Linked DNA regions of Homo sapiens: region 1 is linked to region 2. A link means that fine-mapping ties the variant in region 2 to the expression of a gene that starts in the linked region. Tissue or cell type: spleen. Region 2 holds a variant in brackets; the other region holds the start of a gene. All regions are shown on one strand. Distances are between the middles of the regions. Region 1 holds the start of MAGEC1 (MAGE family member C1). Region 2 overlaps MAGEC3 (MAGE family member C3).

What was found.
Region 1: MAGEC1 starts here. The variant in region 2 is fine-mapped to the expression of MAGEC1 in spleen (GTEx, PIP above 0.99).

The regions. Positions count from the first base shown.
Region 1 is chrX:141,899,869-141,908,139 of GRCh38, reverse strand. It overlaps MAGEC1 (MAGE family member C1), which reads right to left and starts at 4,246. Exons shown (of 4, transcript NM_005462.5): 1 at 4,162-4,246; 2 at 3,326-3,423; 3 at 3,064-3,170; 4 at 1-2,731. The coding sequence starts at 3,067. RefSeq lists an enhancer at 2,931-4,130.
Region 2 is chrX:141,876,069-141,884,395 of GRCh38, reverse strand. It overlaps MAGEC3 (MAGE family member C3), which reads right to left. Exons shown (of 8, transcript NM_138702.1): 3 at 4,965-5,221; 4 at 2,600-2,993. Among named protein-coding and RNA genes, the nearest start is that of MAGEC1, 24 kb to the left of the region's middle. The variant A/T (reference allele first, on the strand shown) is at 4,987.

The sequences.
Region 1 (8,271 bases), 24 kb before region 2:
ACCTTTTCATCCAGTGTATAAGTGAACAAGGGCTCGCTCTCTATCAAGGACTCGCTGTCTGTCAAGGAATCACTCTCTAGCAAGGTGTCTGAGGAACTTGTATATTCATCTACTGGGCTGCTGGACTCTTCACTGAATGGGCTCAATGAAGTGGAGGAGGAGAAGGAGATCACAGGACTCTGGAGAGGACTCTCAGGGGAACTCTTGGAAAGACTCGATGAAGTGGAGGAGGGGAAGGAGCTCACAGGAGAACTCTGGGAAAGACTCGATGAAGTGGAGGAGGGGAAGGAGCTCACAGGACTCTGGAGAGGAGACTGGGCAGGCCCCTCAGGAGGACTCTGAGGACTCTCATGGGAACTTTGGAGAAGACTCGCTAAAGTGTAGGAGAAGAAGGAGCTGACAGGTCTCTGGAGAGGAGACTGAGCAGGCCCCTCAGGAGGACTCTGAGGACTCTCAGGGAAACTCTGGGGAAGACTCAAAGAAGTGGAGGAGGAGCAGATACTCACAGGACTCTGGAGAGAAGACTGGAAGTCCTCCCCCTGAGGAGGAAACTGAGGAAAGTGGAGAGGAGAGAGGGAGTCCTCCCACTCAGGAGGACTCTGAGGAAAATGGAGAGAAGACAGGGAGTCCTCTCCCTCAAGAGGACTCTGAGGAATTTGGAGAGGAGACAGGGAATCCTCCCCCTCAGGAGCACTCTCAGGACTCTGGAGAGGAGATTGGGAGTGCATCCCCTCAGGAGGGCTCTGAGGACTATGGAGAGGAGACTGGACAGGCCCCTCAGGAGGACTCTGAGAACTCTCAGGGAAACTCTGGGGAAGACTGGATGGAGTGGAGGAGGAGCAGATGCTCACAGGGCTCTGGAGAGAAGACTGGAATTCCTCCCCCTGAAGAGGACTCTGAGGAAAGTAGAGAGGAGACATGGAGTCCTCCCCCTGAGGAGGGCTCTGAGGAAAGTAGTGAGGAGACAGGGAGTCCTCCCCCTGAGGGCTCTGAGGAAAGTAGTGAGGAGACAGGGAGTCCTCCCCCTGAGGAGGGCTCTGAGGAAAGTAGTGAGGAGATAGGGAGTCCTCCCCCTGAGGAGGGCTCTGAGGAAAGTAGTGAGGAGACAGGGAGTCCTCCCACTCAGGAAGACTTGGAACAATCTGGAGAGGAGAATGGGTATTCTCCCCTTCAGGAGGACTCTGAGGAATCTGGAGAGGAGACTGGGGAAAACCCTCAAAAGTACTTTGAGTACACTCAGGGGAACTCTGGAAAAGACTCAATAAAGTGGAGGAGGAGGAGGAGGAGCTCACAGGAATCTGGAGAGGAGACTGGGGAAAACCCTCAAAAGTACTGTGAGTTCTCTCAGGGGAACTCTGGAAAAGACTCAATAAAGTGTAGGAGAAAGAGGAGCTCACAGGAATCTGGAGAGGAGACTGGGGAAAACCCTCAAAAGCACTTTGAGCACTCTCAGGAGAACTCTGTAAAATACTCAATAAAGTAGAGGAGAAGGAGGAGGTCATAGGAATCTGGAGAGGAGACTGGGGAAAACCCTCAAAAGTACTGTGAGTTCTCTCAGGGGAACTCTGGAAAAGACTCAGTAAAGTGGAGGAGAAGGAGGGGCTCCCAGGAATCTGGAGAGGAGACTGGGGAAAACCCTCAAAAGTACTTTGAGCACTCTCAGGAGAACTCTGGAAAATACTCAATAAAGTAGAGGAGAAGGAGGAGGTCATAGGAATCTGGAGAAGAGACTGGGGAAAACCCTCAAAAGTACTGTGAGTTCTCTCAGGGGAACTCTGGAAAAGACTCAATAAAGTGGAGGAGGAGGAGGAGCTCACAGGAATCTGGAGAGGAGACTGGGGAAAACCCTCAAAAGTACTCTGAGTTCTCTCAGGGGAACTCTGGAAAAGACTCACTAAAGTGGAGGAGAAGGAGGGGCTCACAGGAATCTGGAGAGAAGACTGGGCAAAACCCTCAAAAGTACTCTGAGTTCTCTCAGAGAAACTCTGGAAAAGACTCAGTAAAGTGGAGGAGGAGGAGGGGCTCACAGGAATCTGGAGAGGAGACTGGGCAAAACCCTCAAAAGTACTCTGAGTTCTCTCAGGGGAACTCTGGAAAATACTCAATAAAGTGGAGGAGAAGGAGCGGCTCACAGGAATCTGGAGTGGAGACTGGGGAAAACCCTCAAAAGGACTTTGAGTACTCTCAGGGGAACTCTGGAAAATACTCACTAAAGTGGAGGAGGAGGCGGCGCTCACAGGAATCTGGAGAACAGACTGGGGAAAACCCTCAAAAGGACTTTGAGTACTCTCAGGGGAACTCTGGAAAATACTCAATAAAGCAGAGGAGAAGAAGGAACTCGCAGGATTCTGCAGAGGAGACTGGACATCCTCACCCTCAGGAGGGCTCTGAGAAATCTCTAGAGGAGACAGGGAGTCCTTCCCCTCAGGAGAACTCTGAGAATTCTGGAGAGGAGACTGGGTGTCGTCGCCCTCAGGAGAACTCTGGGGAATCTGGAGAGGAGACTGGGAGTCCTTCCCCTCAGGAGGTCTCTGGAGAGGATCCGAGGAGTCCTCCCCCTCAGAACGACTCTGAGGACTCTGGAGAGGATACAGGGTGTCGTCGCTCTCAGGAGAACTCTGGGGAATCTGGAGAGGAGACTGGGAGTCCTCCCCCTCAGGACAACTCTGAGGACTCTCAGAGGAACTCTGGAGAAGACTCGGCATCCCAGCAGTAGGCATATCCTTGTCCCCTGGAGAACGCAGAAGCAGAGAGGAGGATGAGGATGAGAAAGAAAAACAGGAGGAGGACGAGGGGAATAAAAAGTGGAAAGAGGAAGAGAAAATGGAGGAAGCTTCCTCCTCTTCCTCATCTGGGGGATCCTCTGCATCTACCAACTCCAGTATGAAAATTGCCTTCTGGAAGCCTTGCTCAAAGCTGGGGCGTGGAAGGTTTAGAAAGAGAGGCATGATGAATATTGTTCAGGAGCAGCAGGTAAACGTGTGAACACGAATAGGTATGATGGGATCCCACAGGACTGAGGGAGAGAGGGACAGTGCCAGTGGCCTCAGCTGAGAAACTCACCCATGATGGCTCTGACAAAGGCCGGCTTACAGCTCTTCTTCTCTTAAGGTGGTGCTCTAGGGCCTCACAGGTCGCCTGTCTTCCTAGGGGGTTTGTCTTCTGGGAACCTGTAGAAGGACGCGAGAAAGCACCTCGGGGCACAGCTGGCAGGCAGAGCCTGAGGCACCAGGAATGACAGTGGGTGGCTACAGGCCGGGTGCTGCCAGGTCTGCCCTGTTTCTGGGGGTAGGGCCCTTGGTACACAGTCAGGTCGTGCACTCACCTTGACTCCTGGCACTGCCTGGGCCTCCTCTGCTGTGGTGCTTTTAGGATGTATGTGTCCCTCACACCCAGGTCTTCAACTCCTGCTTTCTGGAGCACCTGCAAGAGGAAGGGAGGGAGCCCCTCCAGCTAAGACGGCAGCTGGGGCTGGCCAGACTCCCAGAGTCCCACAATTCTGAGGTTCGTGACCCCCTCAGAATTCAATTAGCATTGTCACATTTTCTCAGACAGGGCCAGGCCCCCACCACTCTGCTGGCCTGAGGAAAAACCTCAGGAAAACTCCACATCACTGAGAGCAGTGGGAGGTAGTGAGGTGGCAGCCACCTCCCAGCACTCTACCACGGGGGCGGTCCCTGTGGCCTCACGTCTGTTCTGACGCACATGTGACCCCTCAGTCCTCACTCTTGTTCCCAGCAGGGCCTGGGAATCTTCCCTCTGCCAACTGGAGGCAGCTCCCCATGCTGACTTGCCATGGGACCCCCAGAACAAGGCCTCCTCCTCCCCCTCCCCTACACCCCTCACCCAGCAGTGAGAGGGTGGCCGCTCAGCCTCAGCCACCTGGGGAGCTCTATGGGGGCTGATTTGAGGAGCAGGGTGGGAATCTCTGGGAATCTGTCCTCTGAGGTGGGGGTTCCCCCGGTCCTCCTCAATGCCTTCCTATTTATTCTCTAGAGGGCCGGCATTTCCTCCCTTCTTCTGCCGTGAGGACACGTCCCTCAGCCCTCGGCTACCATCTTCGTTTCCGCCACCTACAAGTGCCACCGCAGGGATAGGGCAGGCCAGGGCTGCTTCTCTCTGTGGTGGGGTTGTCCCTCACTTCTCCCTCGGGGCCCTCACCTTGAAGACTGGATAGGTCTATAAGTCTCCTCCCTCCGCTGACCTGAGACGATCCTCGTCACAAAATGCCTCAGGTCCTTCAGACTCCCAAGATGGCCGCCGGGAAAGCACATCCGGCAAAGCACATCCGGGAACTCTGTCAGGGTTGATCAGGGCTGACAGCCCGGATAGCGTGGGGCGGGGCCTCCTCTCAGAGGAGGAAGGCGCCCCCCCCCCGCCGCCCGCTTGTCAGCCTCCTTTCCATCCCTTCCTTCCCACCTCCAGGATGTGCTCCAAACCTTTCTGCTCACTCCCTAAGCCCTGCTGACCTCTTCCCTCCCACCTCCCCAGTCCTTGACACTCACACCCCACCTTTTTCCAGGGCTGACAGCAGGGAGTGGCAGGGTGCAGCCTGTGCCTCCCCCGTGTTCGGAGGTCACTGTCCTTCGACAGAGTTCTCTTCTTGTTGAGTGGCCAGCCCTGGGGCTACTCCCTCTGTTTAACTGAAGCTGCCCTCCTCAGAGAAAATCTCCCCTCTGGCTGACTCCCAAAATGGAAGTCAGAAATTTGTAAATCTGGGGACCCTGATGGGCTCCTCCATGGCTGGCAGCAGGCACAGGGACAGGACAGGCAGCACTACCAGTCATGGGTGTTCCCTTCCTGCCTTCCTGAGAGGCTGTTCCTGGACTCCTGACATTGTCTGGGCTCCCTGCCTCTATGCATCTGAGTCTTTCACCTCCGAATAAGCCCCTCCCATCCTTGAGACCTGCAAGGTGCAAGAGAGGTAGAATCACATCCATCCACAGTGGGGTATGGCCTCCCAGACTCCAGGTAGGGCTCCACTGCCCTCCGTCTGAAATGGCATGGGAGGGACCCTCAGTCTTCCTCAACCTATTATTCCTGATACGGCCTCCACTCCCTCCCTCTTCTCTCCAGGGACTGTTTTTCAGATCAAGGTTCCCATTTCCATGAACCCCCCAAGAGGGACTGGAGCACGCTAGCGTCTCTCCCTAATGGCCCTGCCCAAGGCCTCCTAGCAGTGAAAACGGGCAGGTTTTTGGGGATCCTCCTGTGTCCGTGGTGGGGTAGCTCACCAGTCCATCCTCTGTATCAGCCTGGGGATGCCTAGAAGGCCCCCCTCCTGATCTTCCGCTCTCATGATCTGAAGTGAGACTCACCTAAGCACAGCCTTCTCCTCTTTCTACACGCTAAGACGTCAGGGGACAGCACTGTGGGTCAACATGCCCCTGGGCCTCCCAGGGATGACAACAGGTGGGGAGCTGGTTTCTGTGGATCCTCTTCTTTGTGGGCAGGAGGTTTCTGCAGTTTTCCCTCAGAGGCCTCATCTGACTACTGGCTGGTCCTGGGTCTTCCTATCCTTCCCAAGATGACAGTATGACACAGGGAAAAAAGTAATGTGACTTTACCCTGAAGAAAACTGACAAACACTAGGTCACCATGGTGATCAAAGTAACATCATCAGTGACAAATTGTGTTGGTATTATGTGCCGTCGGTATGATATGATAAGAATGGCACTTCACTTCTCTGTTCATCTTCCGAGAAAACGTAACCTACATCAAATCATAAAAAATAATCACTTAATTCCCAATCAAAGGCTATTTTACAAAATACCTGACCATACACCTCCAAACTGTCAATGTTTTCAAAATCAAGAGAAGTCTCAGTGAACTGGCACAGCCAAAGGGCATTTAAAGAGACATGATGAACAAGTGTAATGGCGTATCCTCAGGGTATCTTGGGACAGAAAATAGACTTTCGTGACAAGGAAATAAATGTGAATAAAGTATGTTTATTAATAAACAAAGGATGTTTGCATAGGAATAGTACCAGCTCTTCTTTAATAACCACATTTTAACTTCCTTGCCTCTGAGATAATCCCGTCTCCAAATAATGCCACATGTTAATTTCAACATAAGACTTCAGTGGGGGTGCAATTGAATCTATAATAGTGGAAAGGGAAGTGGCAGACCTATATGTATATTATTACCCATGTGTAGTTATAAACACATACATAAGCTCATATATGTATAAATTTTACTTTAAAAACCACATCAATCTTCTCAAAATTCTAAATCAGCTTTTAAATTTAAACACCACACGGTTAATTGTGGAAACTTCTGAATAGGGGGCTGAATTTTGGAGGAACTTTCCAAAAGGGAGAATTGTGATTTCTACCTCTTTTTTTAAGTTTTTGCAACAACAATATATGCAGTATTTATTTGTAAGGAAAGTATTGAAATAAGCCTAAGAAAAGGATGAGGAGCAGTCCAGGAGGCAGATAAAATAACAGTAAGCTCTTGGAACAACAACAAAAAAATCCTTCATTTTTACATGACTCAACACGTTTACTTTTTTGTACATAAATTCTGAATTTAGTTGGCAGGGTATTATGGGCTGAATTTTGAATCTCCCCCAAAATTCATATATCCGTCTTAAAACCCAGTATCCCAGAATGTGACTGTATTTGAAGATAGAAACTTTAAAGAGGTAATTAAGGTAAAATGAGGTCTTAAGGTTAGGCTCATATTCAGTATGACAGGTGTCCTCATAAAAGAGCAGATTAAGATACAGACACACAGACCAAGGAAAAACCATGTAAGAATTTAGTGAGAAAGTGGCCATCAGCAAGCCACGGAGAGGCCAGGGAAGAAATCAAACTGGCCCACATCTTGATCTTAGATATTTAGCCTCCAGAAATGGGAGAAAATTCATTTGTATTGTTTAAGTCACCCCGTCTGTGGTATTCTGTTATGGTATAAGAAACTAATCCACGGCGGGTCCTGGCTTTCACCTCAGCCAGGAATCCAAGCTGCTGTCACCTTATAGCTCCACGTCACAACAGATGTTAAGTGCTGAACGGAAATGAAAGCATGGGAATGATACACTGGCTTCTGTCTAACTACAAATGAACCCGCCAGGAAGGCGAGCTAGACAAGATGGAGATGGGCACTTGCAATCTCTCCCATATGTTATTACGGTGCTCAATGAAAAGCAACTATTATAATTGATGACAGTAAGTGCCTTCATTGCTTGGAATTGTTTCTGGGAATGTCCTCGTAGCCTTGAAATCTTCCAACTTTTTCTTGCACCTACGAGGTGACTGGTGGTTTCAAATTCAGGATTACATCCAGTTTTAAAACAATTCTGTAAGTCTTGGCAGGGAGGGTCTACGTTATTCCCTCAACAGCACTTGGCACTGTCCTTTTTAATAACCTGTATAATTTCTTTAGGCTGAGAATTCTGTCATATTTTTCGTGTACGGTAAATAATCTACCCTGTGAGCCTCTGCTACCCTCCATATGACGGAACATACCTGAACAGCTATACATGGGCCTGTGGCTCACTGCAAGCCAGGATTTTCTTGTGGGGCAGGTACACAGACAAGAGAGAGTGGAAGGATATTTAACTACTGTTTATTTCTCATCAAAACCAGCATGTCCCCCAAAGTATCCTTGTCACCTCCTAAGCAGTCTTCAAGATATTGTTTTGTGTTTTTTAGAAATTCACCTTCTTGTGGATCATTTACAAAGTGACGTCTATAGCCTTTCCTCATCTACAAAGTTTATGAAGGAAAGATTGGCATTTGATCATCTACAAAAGCCTGTTCATCTCTGTTTTCAGTGCCCTGTTTCAAATAATGCATCTCATTAAAATCATACTACAAGTATCAAATATTAGAAAGATTTCAAATAGGCTATTTCTGACCTTAGGATTACATCCCTAAAACCCATATATTATCTGGCAAATCAGATTTTACTCTGCAGCCTGTTTGGTAATACGTTGAGAGTGTGTTGAAGATGCCCAGCCTAGGTATGGAAATGTCACTATCCAAAGCGAATAGTCACATCGAAAGGCCATTATCATAGAGGAACCTGGGGGAGAGATGGATGAGTCAGGGAACTTCTGCAGGCAGTAGGAATGGTCTATCTCAGGGGAAGGCCAGTTGCTTCTAGGTTCTTGCGCTGAGAGTTCAGCAGCCACCTCCAGGCACTCTACACCAGGAGAAATAGGGGCTAGTCTCACATCTATTCTGGTGCACATGTGACTCCTCAGTCCTCACACTTCAGAGGGTGAGACCGTAATGAGAAGTTAGTCAGCAGGCCAGGTTC
Region 2 (8,327 bases):
GGAAGCCAGTCCGAGTCCCAATGCTGAAGAACTTGGAGTCTGATGTTAGAGGGCAGGAAGCATCCAGCACAGGAAAAAAAAGTGTAGGCTGGGAGGCTAAGCCAGTCTAGCCTTTTTACATTCTTCTGCCTGCTTTTTATTCTGGTCCTACTGGCAGCTGATTAGATTGTGCCCATGCAGATTAAGGGTGGACCTGCCTTTCCCAGCCCACTGACTCAAATGTTAACCTCCTTTGGCAACACCCTCACAGACAAACCCAGGAACAATACTTGCATCCTTCAATCCAATCAAGTTGACACTCAGTATTAACCATCACACAATACAATCTCTTTAGACTGAGAATTCTCTCACTGCTTTTGGTATACGGTAAATATCCTACCATGAGAGATTCTAATACCCTCTACATGACTGAACATTCCTGAACAGCTGTACATGTGCCTGTGGCACACTGCAAACCAAGATTTTCCTGTGGGGCAGGTACACAGAAAAGAGACAATGGAAGGATGGTTAACCATAATTTTCTTTTCTCATCAGAGCTAGCCTGTCTGTCAAGGAACACTTGTCACCTTCTAAGCAGTATTAAGGATTTTGTTATTGTTCTGTTTTTAGAAATTCAGCTCCTTGTAATTTATTTACAAAGTGATTTCCAAAATTTTATCTCATATACCAAGTTTATGAAGGAAGCTTTGCTTTTTGACCACCTGGTATAGCTCATTCATCTGTGTATCTCTTCAGTGGCCTGCTTCAAACAATGTTACTACAAATATCATATATTAAAATCCCAATACAAATATCAAATATTAGGATGATCTCAAAAACTCTATCTCTTACCCTAAGATTACATCCCTAGAACCAGTATATTATGTGGCAAATCAGATTCTACTCACCACCCTATGTGGGAGTATTTTGAGAGTGTTTGAAGATGCCCAGGATAGATATGGAATTGTCACTATCCAAACTGAAAATTTACATCAAAGTGCTGAATTTGAATCAAGGACCAACTCCTTTTCACCTTCCCCTTTGCTCATCCATCCAAACAACTATTTCTATTTATCCTCCACTAAAAATCTAGCCCTTGCTTACAGTTGCCCACATTACATTTAAAATAACCTAATTAAATGACCTTTCAATGGAATGGACTCTGGCTCTCCCAGGCTAGGAAAATGAGTGCCAGCCTAGAAGCTTCTGGGCAGCATTTCAAGGAATTATCGCCTTATTTCTCAGGAAACACTTGCAAATGATGGGTATCAATCACCTAGTCCTTGCACTGTGTTCAAGCTCACCAGTTAGAGAGCTGCAAGACAGCTTCCATTACTTCCCCACATGGAGACTCCTCTCTCCCTCATCATCCACCCAGAAGGAACTGCTCAGAGCAGTTTTCCATTGCAGGCTTTTCTCTCACCTTCTGAGAGTCTGGCCCCTGCCACCACCCAGCTTCATAACAATCAGCTCCCACAGAAGCACCTGCAGTTTCCCGAAGCCCCACACTACCTTAGCTCAGGGACTTTATACTTGAAGACTCCATCTGGAGTCTCACCTCCCCACTTTTTTGAAACTTATGATTGTAGAGAGCATCTTACCACCTTCTTGACATGGCTTCTGCTCCTAGACTCTATTGTTTTATAGGTAAGGCATAACTCTTGCTTTTCACTGTATCCCCACTATTAAGAGTCCCCTCCGCAAGCAAATGCTCACAGAATGTTAGGCAAATAAAGCCGTCAGAGATGCTTTTATTTATTAACATTTAATTTCTGCTACTTTCTTGAATGAGCTAAGCAAAGCCAGGTCTATTTCTTTAATTTTCAAGAACAACAGTATAAACGGGATAAGGAAATGTAACTATTCACCATCCTTTATTTCGTTCCACTATTTAACTGCTGAGTTCTTACATAATTTAAAGAAAATTCCTAGTACAATACCATGTTATCCTGTTATAGATCACAAAATAAGAGACAAGCTTTTTCCATTTTTTTTTACAAAATATCAAACTGTTACTCTTAAACTAGATAAACAGCAATATATGTGTGACTAATATTTATAAAATAATATTCTGAAGCTAATTCAACCTACTATTAAAAGGAAAATCATTCAAAAAGTACACAAAAGGAAACGAGGTAAATCTATCTCTCCCATATGGAACAGAAATGCAAAGAACACTGTATTGTTCCCTCAAGCCCCACCCGGGCCCTCCACTACCTAGGACCCTGACTGCCCTCTTCAAACACAGACGTAAGAAACGGCCCTATACTTCACTCAGGACAGGAGAAGTTTCTGGAGATGACACGGAACCTTGCACTGGCCATGGCAGTAGCATCATTTTTGGTGTCAATTATGGCCTGGGCTCTGTCTTCCACATCTTTCAAAGCATCCTTGGAAGAGATTGGAAAGGAACTAGAGACGGTATTGTTTCACATGACCAAAATCTCACTACTTTCCTCTTGCTAGTTTCTGAATGGGCTCTAGGACCCCACAGGAATTCATAACGTGGAGGAGCACTACTGGGCACATGTCGCTACTCCAGGTAATGTCCCTGCACTCAAACTTTAGTGACAAGCTCCCTGGGCTCCCGATAGACGAAATGCTCCCTCTGAGCACACACCCCTATTGCATTCAGCACTTCCCAGATGACCTCCTCAGATGCACAGTTGCCCTTTATGAAGATCACACTCAGAATAAGAATCAGGAGGCGGTTCTGGGGCATGCCCTGCTCATCACTCAGACTCCCCTCACAGGTGAGGTCTAATGTGTTTACAAAGACATAGAAATGGTCGGGGTCCACTTCTGTCAGGGAAATGCCAAAAAGAATCTCTATGAACTCACGGGCTTTCCTGAAGATCATAGGAAAGTAGCCCGTGTATGTGTTGATGACATTCATCTGCATCTCTGCTCTTGTGAGAGGCTCTTTTGCTTGATATTTGAGGAGAAGAAACTGCACCAACTTGTCCACCTTTTCATCCAGTGTATAAGTGAACAAGGGCTCGCTCTCTGGCAAGCTGTGCCAGGTACTTGTATCTTCATCTTATTGGCTGCTAGGCTCTTCATTGAATGGGCTTCATAAAGTGGAGGAGGAGCAGGACAGGGAACCCTGGAGAGGACCCTGGGGAGGACTCTCAGGAGGATTCTGGGGAAGAGGCAGCATCCCAGCAGACAGCTACTCCTCCTCCTCCTCATGAGCACCAAGAATCAGAGTAGAGGATGAGGAGGAGGAGGAGGAGGAAGAGGAGAAAGAGGAGGAGAAGGAGGAAGAAGAGAAGGAAGAGGAGGGGAATAATAAGTAGAAAGAGGAAGAGGAAATGGAGGAGGTTTTCTCCTCTTCCTCCTCTGTGGAATCCTGTGCATCTGCCAAGTTCTCTATCACAGTTTGGTTCTGGAAGTCTTTCTCAAAGTTGCCGCTAGGAACATTTCAAAACACAGGCATAACGTCTTCCTTAGGAGCAGGAGGTAAATGTGTGAGCAGGGATGTGGATGATGGCATCCAACAGGCCTGAGGGAGAGAGGGACACTGCAAGTGGCCTCAGCTGAGAAACTCACCCATGGTGGTTCTGACAAAGGCCGGCTTACAGCTCTTCTTCTCTTAAGGTGGTGCTCTAGGGCCTCACGGGTCACCTGCCATCCTAGGGGGTTTGTCCCCTGGGAACCTGTAGGAGGATGTGAGAAAGCACCTCGGGGCACAGCTGGCAGGCAGAGCCTGAGGCACCAGGAATGGCAGTAGGTGGCTATGGCCAGGTGCTGCCAGGTCTGCTCTGTTTGTGGGGGTAGGGCCCTTGGTACACAGTCAGGGCGTGCACTCACCTTGACTCCTGATATTGCCTGGGCCTCCTCTGCTGTGCTGACTTTAGGAAGTGTGCCTCAGACCCAGGTCTTCAACTCCTGGTTCCTGGAGCACCTGCAAGAGGAAGTGAGGGAGCCCCTCAGGCTAAAGACTGCAAGCAGAGTCTTGGGCCTCCCAAGGCTGACAGCTGGGGCTGACCAGACTCCCAGAGCCCCACAGTTCTGGACTGCATGGTCCCATCAGAATTTAATTAGCATCCTCACCTTTTCTCAGACAGGGCCATGTCCCTACCACTCTTCTAGCCAAAACTCAGGGCAAACTCCACATCCCTGAGAGCAGTGGGAGGTAGTGAGGTGGCAGCCACCTCCCAGCACTCTACCACGGGGGCAGTTGGGCTGGCCTCACATCTGTTCTGATGCACATGTGACTCCTCAGTCCTCACTCTTATCCCCAGCAGGGCCTGGGAATCTTCCCTCTGCCAACTGGAGGCAGCTCCCTGTGCTGATTTGCCACGGGACCCTCAGACCAAGGCCTTCCCTTTCCCTGCACCTCTCACCCAGCAATGAGAGGGCTGCCGCTCAGCCTGAGCTGACTGGGGAGCTCTACGAGGGCTGATATGGAGGAGCATGCTGGGAATCTCTGGGAGTCTGTCCTCTGAGGTGGCGTTTCCCCTTGTCCTTCTCAAAGTCTTCCTATTTATTCCCTAGAGAGCTGGCACCTCCTCCCTTCTTCTGTCATGAAGACGTGTCCCTCAGCCCTCGGTTACCCTCTTCCTGTCTGCGACCTACAATCTCACAGCAGGTAGAGGGCAGGCAAGAGCTTCTTCTTTCTGTGGTGGGAGGTCCCTCAGTTCTCCCTTAGGGCCCTTACCTTGAGGATCGGCCAGTTCTAAGAGTCTTCTGTCTGCTGATCTCAATTAAGCCTTCTCACAAAATGCCTCAAATACTTCAGACTCCCAGTGGGGCTAGGTCTCCTCTCTATGGAGGAACCACCCCTCACCTCTCTACCTCTTTCCCACACTTTCCTGACCACCTCCCGGCCCTTCTCCACCCCTTCCTGCCCATCTCCTGGGCCCCCTCCACCCCTTCCTGCCTACCTCCCCGACCCTTTCCACCCCTTCCTGCCCACCTCTCGGTATCCCTCCACCTTTTCCTCCTCACTTCAAAGCCCTCGTCCATATTTCCCTGCCCACCTCCCCGCTTTCTCCCCCCACA[A/T]CCTTTTTCCAGGGCTGACGGCAGGAAGGGAAAGGGTGTAGCCTGTGCCTCTCCTCCATGTTGGAAGGTCACTGTCCTTCCACAGAGTTCTCTTCTCGTTGAGTGGCCAGTCCTGGGGTTCCTCCCTCTGCTTAACTGAAACTGCCCTCCTCAGAGAAAACTTCCCCTCCGGCTGACTCCCAAAATGCAAGTCAGAAAGTTGTAAACCTGGGGACCCTGATAGGGTCCTCCAGAGCTGGCAGCAGGCACAGGGACAGGGGAGGGGCACTACCAGTCATGGGTGTTCCCTTCCTGCCTTCCCGAGAGGCTGTGCCTGGACTCCTGGAAACCGCCTGGCCTTCCTGCCTCTGTGCAACTGAGTCTTTCACCTCCGAATAAGCCCCTCCCATCCCTGAGACCTGCAAGGTGCAAGAGAGGGAGAATCACATCCACCCACAGTGGGGTGGGGCCTCCCAGGCCCAAGGCAGGACTCTGGTGTCCTTTTTCTAAAATGGGGTGGGCAGGACTCTCTGTTTTCCTGCAGTTATTATTCCTGACATGGCCTGGGAGCCCTTCCCCTGCTGTCCAGAGACTATGTTCTTCAGATCAAGGTCCCCATTTCCATGAGACGCCCCCCAAGACGAAGTGAAAAGCGCTAGCATCTCTGACTGAGGGCCCTGCCCAAGGCCTCCCAGGGGTGAAAACAGGGCCTGGATTTGTGTGTCCTTCTGTTTCTTGGGAGGGGTGTCTCACCAGTCCTTCCTCTGTGTCATCCTGGGGATGCCTGGAAGGGCCTGAGTCCCTTCACCTCTCATGATCTGAAGTGAGACTCACCTAGGCAGAGCCTTCTCCTCTTTCTACCCTCTAAAATGTCAGGGGGACACCACAGTGGGCCACCATGCCCCAGGGCCTCCCAGGGCTGACAGCAGCAGTGGAGCTGGATTCTGTGGATCCTTCTCTTTGTGGGCAGGGAGTCTTGCAGTTATCTCTCAGAGGCTTCATGTGACTACTGGCTGGTCCTGGGTCTCCCTGTTCTTCTCATGATGACAGTATAACATACGGCAAAAAATAATGTAATTTTACCCTGAATAAAGCTAAAAAGCACGATGATGCCATGGTAATCAAGTTAACATCATCAGTGACAAATTTTGTTGGTACTATGTGCTGTCGGTATGATAAGAACGGCACTTCACCTCTCTGTTCATCCTTCCAGGAAACATTACCTACATCAAATCATGACAGAAAAAAATCACATAAATCCCAGTCAAAGTCAATTTTACAAAATACCTAACCATACGAAACTGTCAAAACTGTCAATGTTTTCAAAATCGAGAAATGTCTCAATCAACCGGTACAGCCAAAGGGCATCGAAGGAACATGATAACTAAATGTAATGGAGTATCCTTAGGGGATCCTGGCATAGAAAATAGAATTTCGTGAAAAGTAAGAAAATGTGACTGAAGTATGTTCAATAATAAATAAAGAATGTTTGTTAAAAACAATGTACAAATACTGGCTCATTAGTTTTAGGAAACCTTACCAAGGTAAGGTGTTAATAACAGGAGGCATTGAGTGTGGAACATATGAGAACTTTCTTACTATTGTTATAATTTTCTTGTAAATCTAAAATTATTTAAACATAAAGTTTATCAAATATGAAAAATGTTACCAAACTAGATAAAAGGATATGCATGAAAAACCTACAACAGATACATCTTTTAAGGAAATGTTGGAAGCCTCTAGTTTGAACTTGAGACCTAACCTAGAGTTTCTGCTACAAGTACTTCTATTACTTTTTATACTAGAGGTAGTAGCCAGTGTAGTAATCCAAAGAGCAGTAAATGAAGGAATGAGGATTGGCCAGTTGGAAACAAAGCGTTTGTGATTCATGCATGATTAGACTGTGCATGAAAAGAATCCAAAACAACTAAAGATAATTTATTCAATATATAATAGTATATCAGTTTGCTAGTATAAGGTCAATATTCAAAAGAATATCAACTTCGTTTTTTGTCAGGGAAAGAGTATGAAAATGAAAGTAAAGACTATATAATTTTAACCTATAGTACCAAAATATCAAGTATCTTAGGAAAATAATTTAACCAAAAACATTTTAACCAAATAAGACTGGGAGGCAGCTGATGGCTGGTTAAAATATTTTTTGGTTAAAAAAGCTTAACCAAAAAATTTTTACAGACAAAAATATTAAAATGCTGTTGAGGCATATTAACAAAGACCTACCTGAACATAAAATAAAATAAATTCATGGGCATGAAGATTCAATATTTTAAATATGTTGATTCTTCCCAAAAAGGAATCTACAGATCGACTGCAATCCTAAATCAAAACTGCCAAAGGGCTTTGGACATGAAGGCATGTGTGAATCACCTGATTCTAAAATATAAAGACATGCAAATGGACAAGCATAGTCAATATACACTTGAAAAAGAGTCATTAGTCTACCAGACAGTAAGAATTACAAAGCTACTATAATGAAGAGTTTGAGATTTGGGTGCAGAGATTGACAGATAGACCAAAGGAACTGAATGGAGAGTTCTGAAAAACAAAACCAACAAAACATGTATAAACATGTGCTTAACTGATTTTTAAAACTTGCAGCTTTAGAACAGGAGACAGTCTTCTTGAAATAAGTGTCAGTGGAACAACAGAATATCCATACAAAAACCCTAATGTAAGTGGAACCCTTTTTCATATTAAACAGAAAAAACAATTACAGGGAAATTCAAAACCTACCTTAAAATATGTTTATTATAAAAAACCTCAGAAATACACAGACATTCTTAGAATAATAAGTCTTTGTATAAATTATCTTTAAGCAAGTTCGCAGTATGAGTAAATTAGAGCATCTGTAAGGCTGGATTTGAAAGCACTGAAAGAGGCTGGGGTCTTTGGTCACTTCAGTACCAGGGAGAAGTAAGATAAGAGTCAAAGAGGAGCACAGGAAATAGCAGCTACTTCTGCCCCCTTGTCTCAGCCATAAAAGGCCTGACTGCTTTCATGAACCTTTGCTTCCTGAGAGCAGGACTTGAAATCTCAATAGTGGCTGGGGGAAGGCTACCTGGGACAACTTTGCATTAATTCCCTCTTACTTGGCCAGTCCTCCTGCTGACCTCTGGAACTCTGGGGGTCCAAGAAATATAATGTGAGCAGTTCTACTCCAGAAAGTCATGAATGGGGGATGTTGTGTTGATGACAGAAACCTGACCAGGTCCACAAATACTTTACTGACTTAAGAGGCAGTGCCAGTTTGCCCAAATGTGATGGGAATAGAGGTTTATTTTCCTCTCCACATAGATAGGAGATTCACATACTTCCTTTCAGCTGTTCTTACTCCTGACAGG